Linked DNA regions of Homo sapiens. The protein of the gene in region 3 interacts with the protein of the main gene of each other region in a pairwise test. Each region holds a gene or a part of one and is shown on either strand. Other genes may lie near its edges.

Region 1 (3,752 bases), on a different chromosome or scaffold from region 3:
GGAAACGAGCCCCGTTGGAAGCCAGGGACCTGATTTACCTACCCAGCTGACTTGATACTTGAAATCTTTTGTCAGGCGGGTCTCTTTTGTTCTCTCCCCACTAACCTGAGAAGCTTTAAAGGTAAAACAGCAATTTCTTAGAGCCCACCTCCCCTGGGGAAGAAGCCCTTTGTATGGTTTTGGGGTGCTAGTTCCCTCGGGGGTTCACAGCTCCTCTGCTTCAGGTTTTTTTTCTGGGATGCTGCCTCCCTCTGTTCTGACATTTATCCCAGAGCTTTTTCAATCTATTTGCCTGGATTCCACCCCAGCATCCCAAATAGTCACTTTCAGAGTGGGCTGAGGCTAGGCTTTTGGAGAACAATGAAAAAACACCACAGGTGATTCTCCCTTCATAGCCAGAGTTGAGGTTGTCACCCCAGGTTAGGGCATAGGGTGGCCTTGAGAACTTGGCCCTGTGTTTACTCCACGTGGGGCTCGTGGCTGTGGCCCATGAATCCATGTTGAGGAATGGGACCCAGGGAGTTGCCCTGGGACATACAGAGGGCAGTGAATCGAAGGGATTCCCTGGAGTCTGTCACTGGAGGGAGAACTGCTTTGGGCACCTAGAAAAGCTGGATGTCAGATGATTTTTTTTTTTTTTTTTTACACAAAGTGAGAATAAGAAATGGATTAAGAACTCTTGTTGGACTGTATTTTGTCTCTGAGGCAGACCTATCAGTTTTCTTTTTGTACTGTGATATAAATATTTATAGTCTAGGCTTTTCAAAATCTCATCTACCTTGATATAGGAGGGAGGTAAGATTTACTGGCTGTGTGTCTTGTTAGCAATGTAAATTATAAGTGAGTGAGGAGGGGGAGGAACATGAGAGGGACGCGAAATGAGATTAGGAAGGAGGGCTTTTCTTGCAGCAGCAACAGCAGCACCTTTCCGTCTGGGGCCTAATTATACTACAGTGATTTGAAGTGTAAACTGCTTGTGATTATGAGCAAGTTTTCTAAGGTTATTAAGCAACCTTACTGTAAGCCCATCTTTCTTTGAAAAGGTGAACGATCCGAGTGGAGAACTGTAACACGTGAGTAGATACACAGCACGCTCCATTCTCCAGGAAGTGCCTTCCTTTCCTACGCGGTTGCTGTGGGTTAATAATAAAACTCCTGTCCCTTAGTAAATCATTCCTGGGAATACAGCTTTTGGGCCCAAAGTCATTAGCCATGGACAATCTGGAGTGAGTTTTTTTTCCTTGTTTCCTGGATTTTTAGGTCCTTTCTGGGGTGATGTTTAAAAAGCACTGCTTTGGTTCGAATGTGTTCCTCCATGTTGCCAGTGGGATGGTAGTAAAAGGTGGGCCTTTAAGAGGTGGCTCGGCCATAGGGGCTCCTCTCTAGTGAATGGGATTAGTGCTCTAAGGGGCTGGATGGAGGGAGGTGGGTCCCTCTGTAGCCTCATTGAAGGGATGAGGCAGGAAGGCCCTCAGCCGACACCAGATGTTGGTGCGTGGATCTTGGACTTCCCAGCCTCCAGAACAGAGATCAGTTTCTGTTCGTAAATCACTAAGTCTGTGGGATTCTGTTGCAGTAGCGCAGAGGATGACAGAGATACACTTGTCTCTCCTTCATCTTCCTCTCCCTGTTGTCTTCAGCCTGCCCCTTGTGTGATAGATTACAGTATGTGTTTGGTCTTGACCCTACCTACTTCCTGGTGCAGAGCACCTAAACCCCTGGGGCTTCCTGAGCAGTGTCTTTTTTTTTTGTTTGAGACACAGAGTTTCGCTATTGTTGCCCAGGCTGGGGGGCAGTGGCATGATCTCGGCTCACTGCAACCTCCCCCTCTCAGGTTCAAGGGATTCTTCTGCCTCAGCTTCCCGAGTAGCTGGGATTACAGGCGCCCACCACGCCCAGCTAATTTTGTATTTTTAGTAGAGACGGGGTTTCACCATGTTGGTCAGGCTGGTCTCTGACTCCTGACCTCAGATGATCTGCCCGCCTCGGCCTCCCAAAGTGCTGGGATTACAGGCATGAACCGCTGTGCCAATAAGTGTCTTAAGCATGTTTATTAAAGAAAGTAAAACAGTAAAAAGATGGTGACTCCATAGGCAGAACAACCTGACCAGTGTGTGCGTTATTCATAAAGTCACCCTATTAGCAGTGTACTCCAAAAGTGCTCCTTGGTTAACCATTTTTGGTGTAAGTTGTAAGGAGCCCCTTCAGAATACACTGCTAATACAGTGGCTCAAGGGTGGCCCCAGGATAGTTACTTGAGGTAGAAATTCCCAGGGCAGCCCCTCCTAGGAGGGGAGGGGACTGGAGATGGAGATGGGGGAGCCATGAGGTGCGGGTAGCATGGTTGGGGTTAGGGTTGGGACATGTGGGGTAAGTGGGAGTCTGGTTGCAGAGAGTGTGGTTGGGGTTAGGGTTGGGACGTGTGGGGTAGGTGGGGATCTGGGCTGTATGTCATTTCCATTTGTCTGCCCTGGAATTGTTTCTGGTAAACTGATAAATGTAAGTAAAGAGTTTTTCTGAGTTCTGTGAATTGTAGTAAATTACTGAACCTGAGGCAGGTGTGTGGGATCCCCTGAGTAGGTAGAGGCACTGGCAGAAATACGGGTAACCTGGACACCCCATTCTCTGCTTGCATCTGTGGGAACAGTCTTGTGGGCTCCACACTAAGTCTAGGTAGATAGAATGGAATTGAATCGTTGGACACCCCGGTGGTGGTGACTTGGTGTCCCACATTTGATGTTAAGAGTGGCATCAGAGAAGAGACACCACACCTTCAAGTTGCATTTGTGTTCCATATCGTCAGATAGCTGAACAACACTTTAGTCAAGTAAATTGAAGCAGGCCCAGAATCTGAATACTGTAGATTCAGCGGAGAAAGACAGCTGGCCAAAACAGAGGCTGTGGTGCCGTTCTCTCAGGGGCAGGCCATGGCTAGCCGGCCGCATGGCATCTTGAACCGCAGAGAGGGAAGGAGGGCTAGTGAACATCAGAGTACTTGGCAATACTGTCTGGTCAGATGAGCGGCTTCAGGAATGGTGTGGTCTGTACATCTCAGAAGGCACCATGTAGCCTCTGCCAGAGTGTGGGGCAGACTGGCCTGGGCCTTTCTCCTCCATTGAGCTCCAGGCTCCGAGACAGACCCTGGCTTGCCTTTGTATTAGGGATGTGCTTCGTGTAGGCCAGGACATGAGGCAACGTGAGAGGCCAAAGAGAACAATCATGCGTTCATTTGAAAATTTGTGTGATCATTTCGTTAGCAGCTTACTGGGAGACTGTTGATGGCATAAGTTGCAAATCCACTTTTCCTTCCTGGGCCTTCGGTTTGCTTTTTTCTGGTTAATATGAAATAGACTCTGCAACAAGTGGCGTATGGAGCCTAGGCCAGCCCTCTTTCAGGAGAGATGCCTCGTGTGTGTGGAAAGCTGTGCACCTGCCTTTGCTTCCAGCGAACATGACGGATGAAGAGGCTGCTCCTTTCCCCCTAATTGCATGGTGTTATTAGTGCTGTGTTGGTTTAAGGACAGTCAGCAGCTCAGGGTGATTATTCTGCTTACTAAAATTATAGTGACTGCAAAAATGAGATAATTCCATTGTTCTCGTCCATAAGTTTCCCTGTCTTTTGTGGCCTGCACTTTCCTCCCACTGCACTCCATCCTCCATACGCTACCAGAGGAAGCTCCTACCAGATTTGCTTTAAATAAATAAACCTATGACACAAAGTAGAGAGATTATCTGGGGCCCAGAAATAGACG
Region 2 (3,752 bases), on a different chromosome or scaffold from region 3:
CATTTATGGTGCAGTTTTACGTGTGACTGAATATGCCTTCACCCTCCTATGATCATGTTTAAGTTTAGGTTGCCATGAGGAGGCATGGCAAATGCTTTTGAACACTTTCGTACCCCTCATCTTATGTCTCTCCAGGCCCTAGATTAGTGGTCATCTTTCAGAGAATGGCTAGAACTCGAGTCTTCTGGGATAGCCTACTAACACGCTTTACCATTGAGGAGTGTCTTCAAAACTCACATCATCTGAATTGCCATGCGTCTCTATATGTGAAAAGTAATTGGAAAGTGTTTCTTGTAGGGGGAAATGTTTTAGGGTTGTTGGGTATCAGTCCTAGAGCTGATTTATGTATATTTTCAACTTAAAAATTATTCCATAGAAATATTTGTGTTGCCGCAGGGGTTGTTAGCTGGGAACCCCAGTGTGTTCTGCTTTGCCTTTCACCCTGTCACAGGGGTTTTCACCTTGACGGCACACTAGATTCACCCAGAAGCTTTTAAAAATGGCAGCACATGGACTGCATCTCAAGAACTTCTCATTTTGGTTGACAGGGGCAGGGTAGAGACGTCACAATATTTTAAAAGCTCCCCAGCCGATTCTAATATGTGCCATGGGTGAAGCTCTAATGCATTCCAAATTGTTAGGAGGAGTAAACAGTTTAGAGAAGAGGTTGGTACCAGTGTGAAGAAGCATATAGAAGCAGAGCAATGCTTCCATAGGATTCTTGACTTTGTCACCCTGACTGCCTTGACCTGGTCACGGCTATGTAAGGCTGACCCTTAACTTGATGTGTAGCTGTGAACCCAACAGTTATGAGCACAAAGATAGTAAACTGAGGCCAGTAGGAGTGCCCAGTTCGGGTTGACTCCTGTGCTAGTTCAAGACAAAAATTTCCTAAATATATATGACGTTGGTTTGATACAGAACCAGCTTTTCTGTTTTCCTGTCCCCATTTAAAAATCTCCTATGTCAATTATACTAGTCTAAAAGACTCCTAGGCCTAATCTGTCTGATAAATTTCTGACGATCTTATTTCTGAGTCAGTCTCACCAACGTCTCTATACATTAATTAACATTATATACATACTCTTGATAACTTTAATAGTTAATATCTATTCTTTTCAGCAAGTTAAGCCCCAAATATTTTTTATTTCTATTTTAGATTTTGGGGGAGGGTTTGTGTATGTAGTGAAGGATCCCCAGTGACTTTCAGTTTTTATACAAGAAATCATTAATAAAGCTAAGAAATTAACTTAGCACATTCTGTTCATCTCTTGTATCAAGTGCAGTTTGTGATCATGTTGTTTTTGTCTAAAAACTTATTTGTAAATTTTTACAGTTCTAAGAATGTATTTTGTGCAATCATAAAGGTTTTATATTAATATATAAGTTATATAATTCACTCTGAAATATCTCAAAGCAAATATTTCTGAAATAAGTAAAATAGTGGTTCTCAAAGTTTTTGGTCATTACATACCTTTACATTCTTAAAAATCATTAGGGACCCCAAAAAACTTGTTTGTGGGTTTATATATTTTGATATTTACTATATTAGAAATTAAAACTGAGAAAATATATATTCATTCAAAAATAATACATTTTAACATAAGTAGCATTTTTTAGTGAAAATACCTATTTTCTATAAACCCTCCAAGTTAATAAGAATAGTGGCATTGTTTTACACATTTACAAATCTCTAATACCAAGCTTAATAGAAGACAGCTGGTTCTCATCTGTGTTTGCATTCTAACTGTTGTGCTATCACACATCATGTAGCCTTTGGAAAATTCCACTATACACATGGGAGAATGAGAATGAAAAAGGCAAATAAATCCTACTAGTATTGAGAAAGGAACTGTAACCTCAAAGACCCTCTGAAAGCGTCTTTGAGAACTACCTTATGCACTTTGAGAACTACTGGTGAATTATTTAATGATGAGGGAACTTTGAGAAAAAGAACTCTGAAGTTCCTGAATTTGAAGATTATTTTACCTTTAGTGGACAAAAGAGTAAATATAAGAGAATGTGACAGTTTGTGTCTGTAGATAGTATTTCCTTTGCAAATTTATCATTTTGAAGGATTTCATTACTACTGAAAAAGTGCAGAACATTTTGGGAGTAAGAATGCTCAATTTCATTTAGCCTTTTAATATCACATAAATTTTTCTTGTATAGGGTTATGATATATTCTCTGATTTGCTTTTTCAAAGCCATACTGCTGTAACTTTTAATTTTCTAATTTCTAGTAGAGACTAAGTCATTTGACAAAGTGAGAATTAAAACTAATAGCTGAATTCCTTCTCTTCTAGCCCTTCGCCACAAGAAGATGGGCAGATCATGTTTGATGTGGAAATGCACACCAGCAGGGACCATAGCTCTCAGGTGTGTCGGGGGGATTCTGATTTACAGTAAACAATTAAGAAAGATGTAAATTCTCTAAGTATATTTTGCTAAAATAAATGTGAAGACTTTTAGGAATAGTTTGAAGCTATTATTGAGTTTCTGATTTTGGAATTTATTTAGGATGATATAGTTCTTGTCGCACTCCTTTACAACTAAGGATTTTGGGCCCTGTCACTCTAAACGAATTGGAAAATTCTTGTCCATAATAAATCATGCCAATACTCCAGGCTAGTTTCTTGAGTGTATAAGTAGAAAAAGACTGAGATAGATGCTTTAAGACCACAGAATAGGGAGGAGCCAAGATGGCTGAATAGGAACAGCTCCGGTCTACAGCTCCCAGCATGAGCGACGCAGAAGACGGGTGATTTCTGCATTTCCATCTGAGGTACCGGGTTCATCTCACTAGGGAGTGCCAGACAGTGGGCGCAGGCCAGTGGGTGCGCGCACCGTGCGCGAGCCGAAGCAGGGCGAGGCATTGCCTCACCTGGGAAGCGCAAGGGGTCAGGGAGTTCCCTTTCCGAGTCAAAGAAAGGGGTGACGGACGCACCTGGAAAATCGGGTCACTCCCACCCGAATATTGTGCTTTTCAGACCGGCTTAAAAAACGGCGCACCACGAGACTATATCCCACACCTGGCTCGGAGGGTCCTATGCCCACGGAATCTCGCTGATTGCTAGCACAGCAGTCTGAGATCAAACTGCAAGGCGGCAGCGAGGCTGGGGGAGGGGCGCCCGCCATTGCCCAGGCTTGCTTAGGTAAACAGAGCAGCCGGGAAGCTCGAACTGGGTGGAGCCCACCACAGCTCAAGGAGGCCTGCCTGCCTCTGTAGGCTCCACCTCTGGGGGCAGGGCACAGACAAACAAAAAGACAGCAGTAACCTCTGCAGACTTAAATGTCCCTGTCTGACAGCTTTGAAGAGAGCAGTGGTTCTCCCAGCACGCAGCTGGAGATCTGAGAACGGGCAGACTGCCTCCTCAAGTGGGTCCCTGACCCCTGACCCCCGAGCAGCCTAACTGGGAGGCACCCCCCAGCAGGGGCACACTGACACCTCACACGGCAGGGTATTCCAACAGACCTGCAGCTGAGGGTCCTGTCTGTTAGAAGGAAAACTAACAAACAGAAAGGACATCCACACCGAAAACCCATCTGTACATCACCATCATCAAAGACCAAAAGTAGATAAAACCACAAAGATGGGGAAAAAACAGAACAGAAAAACTGGAAACTCTAAAACACAGAGCGCCTCTCCTCCTCCAAAGGAACGCAGTTCCTCACCAGCAACGGAACAAAGCTGGATGGAGAATGATTTTGACGAGCTGAGAGAAGAAGGCTTCAGACGATCAAATTAGAGT
Region 3 (3,752 bases):
ATCTATGAGACTTGTTGGGACTCTGTGGCCCTTGGTAGAGAGAGCTGTGCATGCAACTGTGCTTATTGGTGGCAGTGATTTGTTTGCAGTCCTGGGATTTCCTCCAAGCTCTTAGTGTTTGCTCTCCTAGCCTCCACCACGCCTCCTTTTTATTTTGTCTTTCAACATCTGTGTATAATAAACAGTATTTATTTAACATCCCACATCTGGTGTTGACATTTCCATGCCAATAAGTCCTTCTCCTCACTCCCGCTTTGGTGTGTACAAAAGATCCAGATTCCTGTATCCAAATTGAGAACAAGCCATGCTTGACCTCCTCCCCTCACATACCTCAGGTCTGCGTGCACACAGGTGTGCACACGCACAGACTCACACACACACAGACACACACACACACACACACAGACCAGAGAGAGAATGAAATCAAAATAAAGTGAAACAAGGACGACTAACTCTGGGTGAGCTGCTGCATTTTCTTACAGGTCCCAGGCCCCTGACCCACAGCCACATACAGGAGCCACCTGAGCTAAATGAAAGCCAGGTCCATCCAGCTCTGAATTCAGCTTTCTTAAACAAGCAGAAGAGACCTATTCAGTCCCAGCAATTTTGAGAAAGCATCGTAATGAGGCTCCCCTTCTAGGCAGTGACTGCCCTGGGATCATTGAAGCAGAATCACCAAAGAAACATTCTTGCTTAAAGCCCCCTGTATTACACATTTTACTGGAAACAGTCAGAAGCCAACTCCTCAGCTAATTAATCCAACATGAAGCAAACAAATCAGAAAAATCCTAGCCCTTAAACCAACAGTTTAGAAACTTAGCACAGACCTTGTAGCCCATCCCTGCCAATCCTTTGTGGAGCGAGGCAGAAGAATCATACATTTAATAAATGAAAGAGTGTCCTTACTGCCTTACATAGGAGCTGCCTGGTGACTTTAGGGTTGTTTGAAAGCCATCAGGACCACAGTAATCAATAGATTCGTGAGGATGTTCCTTCAACTTCTATATATTACCAGAGCAATGAGGAGTGGTAGGGATAAGCGGGCACTTTTCTGCCCTCCTGCCACACCTCAGTTGCAGGTGATCACTAAAACAGTCTCCCCCAGCGTTGTGAGTCCACTATCATTCTAGGTTGAAAATCCTTTGCTCAGAAGAAGCACTTTCTTGACGAGTCTGATTGCAACATTTTGTGCGTGCCTATTTCTTGGCACGCACAATTGGGCATTAGCCCAATATTAACTTTTTTCGCTCCTCTCTAGGCACACAAGGAAGACAACTTTTTTCTCCAGGTCCCCTGGGCTTTCCTACACCACAGTCCGGTGGGTGAAATGTGGGTCTAGAGAAACATTAATATACCCTCAAGGAAAAAGTTGAAGGAGTAGCCGGAATATTTTTGGCAGGGAGACTGAGCTTTACCAGATGGTGCCATGTTGGCATTTTCAAAAAAAAAAAAAAAAAAAAGACCTCTCTTCATTTTCCTCTTAAAGCATTGTGAGACCCAGGTCCACCCTTGTACAACTCTCACTGGGCCAGCTCTTATTCTGGGCTACTCAAGGGCAGCTCCCAGCAATTATGTGGAGCCAGGCTGTGGCTGTGATGGGCATGTTCTTCTTAGTCAGTCTCTTCATTCTCCTAAGGCAGCATTTGCTGAACAACTTATATGACACCAGGATGAAGAGCCTGGGCCTTCAAAGACAGCTGTTCTGGAGTGGTTGAGAGTGGAATTGGGGCTGTGGAGGAAGTAGCCTGGATGATCAACAGATAGTGGCAGTAGGCGTAGTCCAGTGATCAACCTGACAGGTTGATCTGAGCAAATCTCAGCAGACTTTGCTAACTATCTAACATTACAGATGAAAAGGGGTAAAGGATTAAAATAGGAACTGAGTCCCTAGAGACACTCAGTGATTTGCCCAAAATCACACAGCTTGTAAGTGGTGGGGTTAAGGTTAGAACTAGAGGCTAGTCTGAAGATTCTTTCCACTATTCTTCAGCTGCATTTAAGAATCAGGGATGGGGATAATGGGTAGGAGAAAAACTTACTGGTCAGCTCAAGTCTGTAGATAAAAGAAGTAGCTTTTTCTTGTTGAAAAAGAATGTCTGTGCTGCTTATGCCAATATTTTGCATATTGCCAAATGGTGATTGAAGATGCAGAACTCTAACTTTGCATAAGGAACAATCTGTCTGCTCTGTGTTGGTAAAGAAATACCCAGAGGCCCTTTAATTCCCCCAAGTTAGGTTAATAATAATATGGTACAGTGCATTCTCTTCCCTTCCTTCCAGCCTAACACCTGCTAGCCAGCTATTCTGAGCATGTATTTCACCTTTGGAGAGTGTACCTCATAACAGACAGTAAGGGATGAAGATGGAGTGAAGAGCAGCTAGATTAATCACAGGCTTCAAAAAACAAACCTAAGCCAAATGTCCTCAAATCCCTGTCAGGACAGGCTAAAGCTTCTTGCCCCTAAAACAGATCCATCACACTGAGGTCTGAGATAGCTTTACCTTTTCTAAATAGCTTTCTTTTCTGATCTCAGGGACTGCCACAGAGGCAAGAAAACAAGGAAAACTGTGAAAGAGGGATGTTAGGGCTCATTTGCTGCCTGAATGGAGGATTTAACTGGACTGAAGACAGAATTCCTGGGCAGGGAAGAAAAATGGGTTGTGTCCTCTACATATTTTGTCAGTGTGGTCTTCTTACACTTCTCACTGCCTGGACTTAACCACATATCTGTCTCATTTCACTTCTGATTCCTATTCCACTCCATTGGCTTCCTTGTTCCATTCCAGTGTTCTGGTTCTTATAGTTAAGGCCAGCCTTATGTGTGGGTGGAGTAAGAGCCCATTTGAGTGGTGCTGGAAAGATGCCCTTGCCCCCAAATATCTCCCATTCCTCGTGCCACTGTGCCTATTAGATTGGTGCAAAAGTAACTGTGGTTTTAGCCATTGAAAGTAATGGCAAAGTAATAAAGTAATAAAATCCACTATTAGTACTTCATTCCTCTGAGTGAAGTATTGCACTCAAATTTTTAAACAGACAAATATTCATCACTAATATCTAAGTGTGAAATCATGGGTCAGATTGATTTCTTCTTTGTCATAAGGTACCTGAAGCACCACGAGATTCCTAGATGTCTAGACAGGAGACAAAGGGACAGAAATGGGAAGAGAAAGGGGAAGGGCTATGAGGGTATAGAATGAACAGAATATGAAAATAGAGCAGAAAAGGAAAGCTAGAAGCACCAAAAATTAACTCTCTCTATTTTCCAATTGGGCAGGGGTGTACTCCTCATCATATTCTGTCCTTGCTCTATCCTCCCTGGAATAAAGCTGAGTTGGAGGCAGCTGAGATGAGCTACTTGTAGCCCACTCACACCTCTCTTCAGGCCAGTCATCCTGTCTCTGCTTTAGCTTGCTCCTGGAGAGGACAAAGCCATTTATTCTTTCATCTCCAGAAAGACCTTCAACCCCTGAGCCAGGAAGCTTAGTAGAGAGCAAAGTACTTGTGATGCCAAAGGCATGAGCTCAGTCTTCATACGGGCCAGTGAAGCTTGCATAGCCATTACCCAAGCAATGTGCTCCACAGGGACCCAGGCGAGACAGTGTGTCTGGATTTGCTCATACCCATCTCCAAACAGTCCAAAGTGGGCCACCAGCATCATCTTCCTAGACGAAGAACAGTCTGTTCCAAAAGGACACCTTTGATAGTGGAATTCTGTCTGGGTGAATATATAGCTCCCCACTCCTACCCCCTA

What was found.
Region 1: the proteins of TNMD (region 3) and BNIP3 interact in binary tests that used the Homo sapiens proteins (3 or more experiments, as listed by UniProt).
Region 2: the proteins of TNMD (region 3) and BNIP3L interact in binary tests that used the Homo sapiens proteins (3 or more experiments, as listed by UniProt).

Annotation. Positions count from the first base shown.
Region 1 is NC_000010.11:131,975,274-131,979,025, reverse strand, and holds part of BNIP3 (BCL2/adenovirus E1B 19 kDa protein-interacting protein 3), read left to right. Parts: intron 1-3,752. UniProt on the Homo sapiens protein: Apoptosis-inducing protein that can overcome BCL2 suppression. May play a role in repartitioning calcium between the two major intracellular calcium stores in association with BCL2.
Region 2 is NC_000008.11:26,392,924-26,396,675, forward strand, and holds part of BNIP3L (BCL2/adenovirus E1B 19 kDa protein-interacting protein 3-like), read left to right. Parts: intron 1-2,306; coding exon 2,307-2,379; intron 2,380-3,752.
Region 3 is NC_000023.11:100,587,923-100,591,674, forward strand, and holds part of TNMD (tenomodulin), read left to right. Parts: intron 1-3,752. UniProt on the Homo sapiens protein: May be an angiogenesis inhibitor.